2 linked regions of the Homo sapiens genome follow. The protein of the gene in region 2 interacts with the protein of the main gene of each other region in a pairwise test. Each region holds a gene or a part of one and is shown on either strand. Other genes may lie near its edges.

The links. The genes of interacting proteins can lie anywhere in the genome.
Region 1: the proteins of PANX1 (region 2) and VAMP5 interact in binary tests that used the Homo sapiens proteins (3 or more experiments, as listed by UniProt).

The regions. Positions count from the first base shown.
Region 1 is NC_000002.12:85,583,118-85,587,230, forward strand, and holds the start of VAMP5 (vesicle-associated membrane protein 5), read left to right. Parts: upstream 1-1,313; 5' UTR 1,314-1,373; coding exon 1,374-1,376; intron 1,377-4,113. UniProt on the Homo sapiens protein: May participate in trafficking events that are associated with myogenesis, such as myoblast fusion and/or GLUT4 trafficking.
Region 2 is NC_000011.10:94,177,341-94,180,840, reverse strand, and holds part of PANX1 (pannexin-1), read right to left. Parts: intron 2,473-3,500; coding exon 2,249-2,472; intron 1,240-2,248; coding exon 584-1,239; intron 52-583; coding exon 1-51. UniProt on the Homo sapiens protein: Ion channel involved in a variety of physiological functions such as blood pressure regulation, apoptotic cell clearance and oogenesis.

The DNA of each region.
Region 1 (4,113 bases), on a different chromosome or scaffold from region 2:
ATTTTTGTATTTTTTGTAGAGACATGGTCTCACTGTGTTGCCCAGGCTGGTCTCAAACTCCTGGGCTCAAGCAATCCTACCACCTTGGCCTCCCAAAGTGCTGGGATTACAAGTGTGAGCCACTGTGCCCAGGCTTGGGGTAGTCTTTGCTACAACATGTTAATCCTCTCTCTCCTGGATTCAAGGTGTAAGGAACTGAAGTGAAGCTTCTGCCTTGGGACCCAGGCTGTCCAAGGTGGGGGTGAGTGTCTGTGAAACCCTCTTGGTCTGGGACTTCTGTATTCACAGAGGCTCAGCCCCAGAGAGGGAAACTTTCAATTCTGTTGGTCAAGAGAGGCCTCACTTGAGGGACCAGGCCCAGTGGCTCACACCTGTAATCCCAACACTTTGGAAACCTGAGGCAGAAGAACTGCTTGAGGCCAGGAGTTCGAGACCAGCCTGGTCAACATAGTGAGACCCTGTCTCTCTCAAAAAAAAAAAACAAACAAACAAAAAAAAAAAAACGAGGGACCTTATTTTAAGATGTCCGAGGCAGCTTGGAGTAGTGGAGAACAGGTAGCTGGTGGTTTCTCTGTAGCAGTGAGAGGACAGGATGGGTAGATTCGGCTCAGGAAGGCTCTGAAGTGGTAGTAGATACACCAGCCTCCCCCATCCTCTGACTGAGGAGCAAGTGCATGGCGGGTGCATGACAGCACAGAGCTGCACTTGCCCTCATGGTGAGGAAAGACATACAGAAAGGCTAGAGCTAGTACTTTGCCCATGTGGGGCTGCTTTCTTTTTGAATAGAGGTGAAAGTCACACAATGTACAGTTTGTTATTTTAAAGTGTACAGATCAGTGACATGTATTCAGAATGTTGTGCAACCACCACTTGTCTTTAGTTTCAAAACTTTTTGGGTGCCTGTTTTTGGTTCTGGGTGAGATGCACTCACCAGGGTGATAAAGACCCTGCCTGGCTTGTTCATGGCGTCTCCAGGACCTAGTATGGTGCCTGACCGTGGCACTCATAGGGTGTTTGTTGAGTGAATGAATGATGCCTTTTCAGCTGAACTCGAGCTAGAAGACTCCAGGGCTCACTCCACTGTGCCCATTCCACAGATCCGGCCCCGAGGTGTGCCCGTTCACCAGGCAGAGGTGTCATCCGAATTCAGGCTCCTGGGGCCCGGGAGGGTCCGACTCTACGGACCCAGGTCGCTGTGGCCCATCGCTTTCGATTTGACTTGGTTTCTGTCGCCACTCGCGGAAGGCGCGCCCCCCGCCCTCGCTCGGCGGCCCGCCCCGCCCCGCCCCTGCTCTTCCTCCGGGGCCGCTGGCACTGCGGCCGCTCCGCAGGCAGAGAAGCCGGGAGCGGGCGAGGCGGCGGCGGCAGCAGCGATGGTGAGGGCCCAGGCGGGGCCGGCCAGCCCTGCGACGGGCAGAGGGCGAGTGGCGAGGGTGGGAGAGAGGAGTCCAAAGTCCGCGGGCTGGGGCCTCCCCTGGGGCCCACGAGGGCCAGACCTGAGGCGGTGACCACTGCTGGAGCAGGACGGGGCGGACCCTCCACTCCCTGCGCGCCGCATGGGAGAGAAATGCGTGAGCCCCGTCCTGGCTGCACCGCGCAGAGCGAGCGGGACTCGGGCTCCCCATTCTCCTGAAGCAAAGCGGTTAAGAGCACCGACTTTGGAGTCGGACTCCGGGCTGGGATCCCAGCTCTGTGACCCGGGACAAGTCACTTAACCTCCCTGAGCCTCCTTTTCCGCGTCTGTGAAGTGGGGTCAGTAATACCTGCCTTGTTGGGTCCTTGCGAGGTTAAAGGAGCCACAGTGGCAGAGACCCGCCTGGCACTCAGAACCCACTGCTAAGAAGTGGTAGGAAATGTAACGACCTCGTCAGCCCTTTCCGCAGCTGTGAGGAGCCAAGCCTGGCTCAGGAGTTGGAAACTTGAGCAGATGGGGTGGCAGAGGCCATTCCAGCCCCATGGCAGGGTGTTGGAGGGCGAACTCCTCCCCTAGAGAAAGAGAAAGGGAGATGTTTACTCTGAAAGTTCCACTGAAGTTATCAGTGTATGGCACAGGCCTGACTCCCTGCTAACCTCTACCTAGTGACACATTCCTGAGTTGAGTCATCCCCACTCCTGCTGCAGATCCTGGCCTTTGTCCTCACTTGCCATCTCCAAGGCAAAGATGTCAGGAACAGCTGGTGCCAGTTTCTCCCTTTCCCTAGGGCTCCTGGGAAAATGGACTGGGCAGGAAGTAGGCTTGGTGCTTTAAGATTTTGCCTTGGAGAAACTGACAGAGGTGTGATGGATGTGGCCTGGCTAGGGGTCAATGCCTGGATGGCCTTATCTCCAGGGAACTTGGAGGCAGGAAGAGGAAGTGGGGCAGGAAGGTAGCACTGAGCTCTGAGGCCAGGCCAGGAAGCTGAGGAAGGCTCTGAGAATAGGGCAGAGCCCAGAGCCCACTTAAGGGTGTGCAGGGCAAGGGGTCAGGCAGGGGTAGGGGTGGGCTTCAGCCGGCCCTTAGCTCTTTGGGAGAAGCTCCTGAAGTGAAGGCTGAAGGCAGGATATTTTATTGGGGGAGGAGGATACTGGGAAACCTGGGGATTCTCACGGGTACATTTGAGGCAGTCTGTGGAGGAGAGGCTGGGGAGGTCGCTCCTCCACCCATCCATCTCCTAGCCTCTTCCTGTTTCTTCTTTCACTCTTGCCCCTTTAGCGCTTTCCTTCCTTCCACCCATCCCCTTTCCCTCCCTGGTCCTTCTTCCTTTCACTTTTCTTTTCTTCTCTATGACTCATTCAACCAACAAGGATTTCTTGGAAATGTCCTTCATGCCAGCATGGTGACAAGTATAGGGGACAGAGCAGGAACAAAGCAGTGATGGGAAAGATGGAAATGGAATGAATAATTACTTGAATTCATTAATCTTGTAGATGATCCTCTCTCCAAAGAATGTGTGTGTTGAGCCACAGGCCTCCCTCATATGCACACAAATTAGGTTGGTAGCATCAACCAGATTCTTTAGCCAATCAGCTAAAGTGTCTGACCTCCTTGTACCTGCATCTAATTTAGCACACGGGTTACAAATGTGGTGCCTGGAGTCTGTGTTGGTTCAACTCCCAGATCTTCTACTCACTGGCTCTGTGATCTTGGACAGGTGATTTAACACCTCTGAGCCAAAGTTTCCTATAAAACTGGGAAAAGGCCAGGCGCAGTGGCTCACACCTGTAATCCCAGCACTTTGGGAGGCCGAGGCGGGCAGATCACGAGTTCAACAGTTCAAGACCAGCCTGGCAAACATGGTGAAATCCCGTCTCTACTAAAAATATAAAAAAATAGCCGGGTGTGGTGGCACACGCCTGTAGTCCCAACTATGCGGGAGGTTGAGGCAGGAGAATCGCTTGAACCTGGGAGGCGGAGGTTGCAGTGAGCTGAGATCGCGCCATTGCACTCCAGCCTGGGTGACAGAGTAAGGCTGTCTCAGAACAAAAACAAACAAACAAACAAACAAAATAACTGGGTTAATAATATGGCCTTCAATGGGTTGTTGGGTGAGGATTAAATGAGACAGAGCAAATGAACAGCAAGCAGCATAGTGCCTACCTCAGAGTATGTGCCCATTGGATGGTGGCTGTTATTCTTGCTCAAGATGTAAAACCTCAACAGCCTGCCGTGCCAGATGAAAATAAACTAGATGCAGCCGGGCGCGGTGGCTCACGCCTGTAATCCCAGCACTTTGAGAGAGAGGCCAAGCCAGGTGGATCACGAGGTCAGGAGTTCGAGACCACCCTGGCTAACACGGTGAAACCCTGTCTCTACTAAAAATACAAAAAATTAGCTGGGCGTGGTGGCAGGCGCCTGTAGTCCCAGCTACCCTGGAGGCTGAGGCAGGAGAATGGCGTGAACCCAGGAGGCAGAGCTTGCAGTGAGTGGAGATCACGCCACTGCACTCCAGCCTGGGCGACAGAGTGAGACACCATCTCAAAAAAAAAAAGAAAGAAAATAAACTAGATGCTAGTTACCAAGTTACCAAAAGCCCATTTAAAGTTCTGAGCCACAGGTTAGAAACAATTATGTGTACTATGTGTACAAGTTTGCCATAGGGAAGAGCTTGCTTGGCTGTGCATTTTATAAAACGA
Region 2 (3,500 bases):
GGGCATTCTTCTCTCCATTATTTGCTTTAGTTTCACTGTCTATGTTCATACCTGTCAAAATTGAAAACAAATATTTATGACAGAAACATAGCAGGAATTACCAATACTAATCAATTTTTCTTCTGCCAAAAATTCCTCTCACAGTCTATACCATGTTTTGCTTCTTGGCCTAACTAAAAGAATCAATAAACTTTTAGTCCCCTTTGAAAGAGAAAGTCAGAGAGTAACAGAGAAGGAGATCAGAGGTAGAAAGGAAAGCCAGTAAGATAAGACAAAAATAAGCAAGAAAGACAAGGAAGATTGCTGAGCAAGAGAGAGTGTGAGACAGACAGAGAAGAGGGAAAAACCAGAAAAAGCACAGAAGTTATTCTTCTTTGGAAATGTAGAGCAGCACCAATTCTTTTCCTCTCTCTCCTTATACTGAGGGGTTCCCACTCCCCCTACCCCGCACCTTGGTATTAAGGTTTTTAATGCTTGGAAATGGTTTAAATGATGGGCAGGGTAAAGACTGTCAATATTCCCACAAGGCTGCTGCAAAGGCTCTCGGTAGACTCCCGTAGCCTCTGCCAAAAGCAAACCCTACCTTGGAGCTCTGCCGTCTGGTTCCCCTGCTCCTCTCTCATCTCTGCAGACATGGGAGTTTTGCCATCAACAACATCCATCTTGATCATGCCAAGGTTTGTCAGGAGTAGCATTGGGTCGATCCCCTGACCACTGCTCTTAATATTCTCCAGTACCTTAAGACACTTGTATGACTTGACCTCACTTATATTTTCCTCCAAGAAGAGATTGTAGAGGCTCAAATCGTTGTACCCTTCAGATTTGAAATGCAGAACATCAAAAGTGGGGAGGATTTCGTACACTTTGAGAACATCTGTCTTCTGTCGGAATGGAACAAACAGCGTGTAGACAACCACGGGAGCCAGCAGGACATAAACCACAAGGTTAATGACACTGAGCAACTGGAAGATGCCCACGGCAATGAGTTTGCACTGAAACTGATCGGGCACGGTGCTGTCGTTTCTCAGGATCCCTGATTTGATGCTGCACACAAACTCGTCTGAGAGTGAGGAGAGGCTGAAGTAATAGCCCAGGTAGATACACGCTAACAGTATAATGATGAGTGTCAGCAGGCGGCAGCTAATGTACTTGATGATTAAATTATTAGAATTTTTCTTTGTCTTCAAGTACTGCTCCACAATTGGGTACTTGAAGTGGCTTTCAGATACCTCCCACAAACTAAAAAATAAAGGAAACAAAAATAACTTAGGCACTCATCAAGACCATCAAATATTAAAGGCAGATACACATTCAACAATGTCACACTAAAAATTTCAAACACCCATACTTCTTTACCTACAACGTCAGTAGTCAAAAATAAAATCCGTTTAAAAGAGGAGGAAGAAAAGGAATAATAAAATGCTTTTCCCCTTAATATTTAACAGAAGGCCTAGTTAATTAAATGAGTTAATATTTGGAAATTTTTAGAGTGATGCCTGGCATCTGGTAAATCCTAAATATGTGTAAGCATACGCCTCTTACAGGCAAGGGGTGGGACAACTCAGGGGGTATGGGCAAAAACTATGGGGTCTAAAGGGCATGGTTCAGTTCCCAGACTCTCACTTACAGCTACAGAAGAGTATTTTTATCCAGAATAAAAGTGGAGGAGGAGGTTAACAAATGCACTAGTAATGTTGCTCTGAGGGTTAAAGGAGATAATGTACTTAAATAACTCAATACGGTGTGTGAGATATATTAAATATTCAAAAAATGATGGCTCTTATTATTATTCCAATTATTCAATAACAAGAACCAAAAGAAGGTTGTGAAAAGGCAAGCCACGACCTACTCATTCCCCATTTCTCTCTCATCCCTTGCTCAGCTGCCTTGAAATCCTCTGTGCGTCTCCATTAAGGAGTTAAATAGATCAAAGCAAGCAAGCTTCATATAGCACCTCAATCTGTTACCCCTACAAGAACTGCATTTTTAAAATGAGATGTAATGTTTCACTCATCAAGGGAATGAGTCTTGACAGAAGGATAAACAAATGGGTAGGATGGGTCGCGGTGAGATTTGGGGAGAGTGGACATCCCGGGATACTACAGGCTGTCACTAGGTGCATGACGTCCCCCTGCTTCCACTCCTGCCCCGCCTCCTAGCAATGAGAACTCTGGGCCCAGACTGGCAGTAGAAGGGCAGAGAATTTGTCCTACAAAACCCGATGAGCTGCCTGCTGGGGCTAAGTTACCTTTGCCCTAAGTTCTCGGTAACACCTGGAACTGAGCAGGCTCCATCTCTCATGTCAAGGTCACGCGCACTCTTTGCAGCCTTAATTGCACGGTTGTAAACTTTGTCAAGTTCTTCCATGATAAACTTCAAGTCTGAGCAAATATGAGGAGCAGCTGCGAAACGCCAGAACAGCGGGGGCAGGTACAGGAGGATCGCAAAGAGCAGCAGGATGTAGGGGAAAAACTGAAAAACAAGAGAACAAATCATGGGCTTAACAAACCCCCCATGCAGTAACCTATGGCGCCAAGTGATGCTCTCATTTTCTCACATCTTGAGACAAATGTGTATTGTGGAAATTGGGCTCATTACCTAATAACTACTTCTTATGGCTAAATTCCCCTGTCCAGGTAATACCTGTCACAGGTAACTACCTATTTTTTTTTCTTCCATAGGTATTAATTTGAAGTAATCAGCAACTGCATGGTGACACATGGTGTGTACGTTCTAATCACAGAAGGAAAATAAAAAAATAAAATTACTCCCGTTCCCTGAACAAAATCCCAGTTAAGAAACCTGCAGCTATCACGAAGGCTTCTGCTGGGTTTTTGTTAACTTTTATGGTTTTAAGAAGCAACTAAGGCATACGGCTCCATTTTTGCCCTACTCTGGAATCTGGGAAAATGCCAAAGAAACATGTAACTTCCCCCAAAACAAATTAGAAAAGCTTCGACTTCAGTGATTCAGTAATCATCCCAATAAGACAGCTGAAATAAGCAGTTGAATTCACAGAATGCAGAATGAATGTGGAACAGACTTTGAAGGCAGTCCAACACCCTCATCGTATAGTTGGATAAACTTGGGCTCAGAGAGGCCATCCACAACGGGCAAGGGAATCAAGAGGAGAGCATCCACATCAGGGTGCAGACACACACCAAACAAGAGGGGATTCACACGTCAGAGAGGGTGAGGAGCACCCCAGTAACCAGGACCACCAGTTGGTCAGAGGTGGCTTAGCCTCAGCAGAAGACTTAGGAAGACCGTAAATTGCAGTCAGTGCAGATCTGAATTGAAGCTCAGCATTGCGGCCTTGGGCAATCATGTCTACTCTGCAGAACTAAGTAGCTGCGACAGTGACCATGTGATCTGCAATGACAAAAAAACTTTATGATCTGGCCCTCTGCAGAAGTTTGCTGACCCTGGTCTAGGCCCTTGATGTCACTTTCGACTATCCTTTTGCGTGATCTTCTAATCAGCAATAAGACATAAGAGTA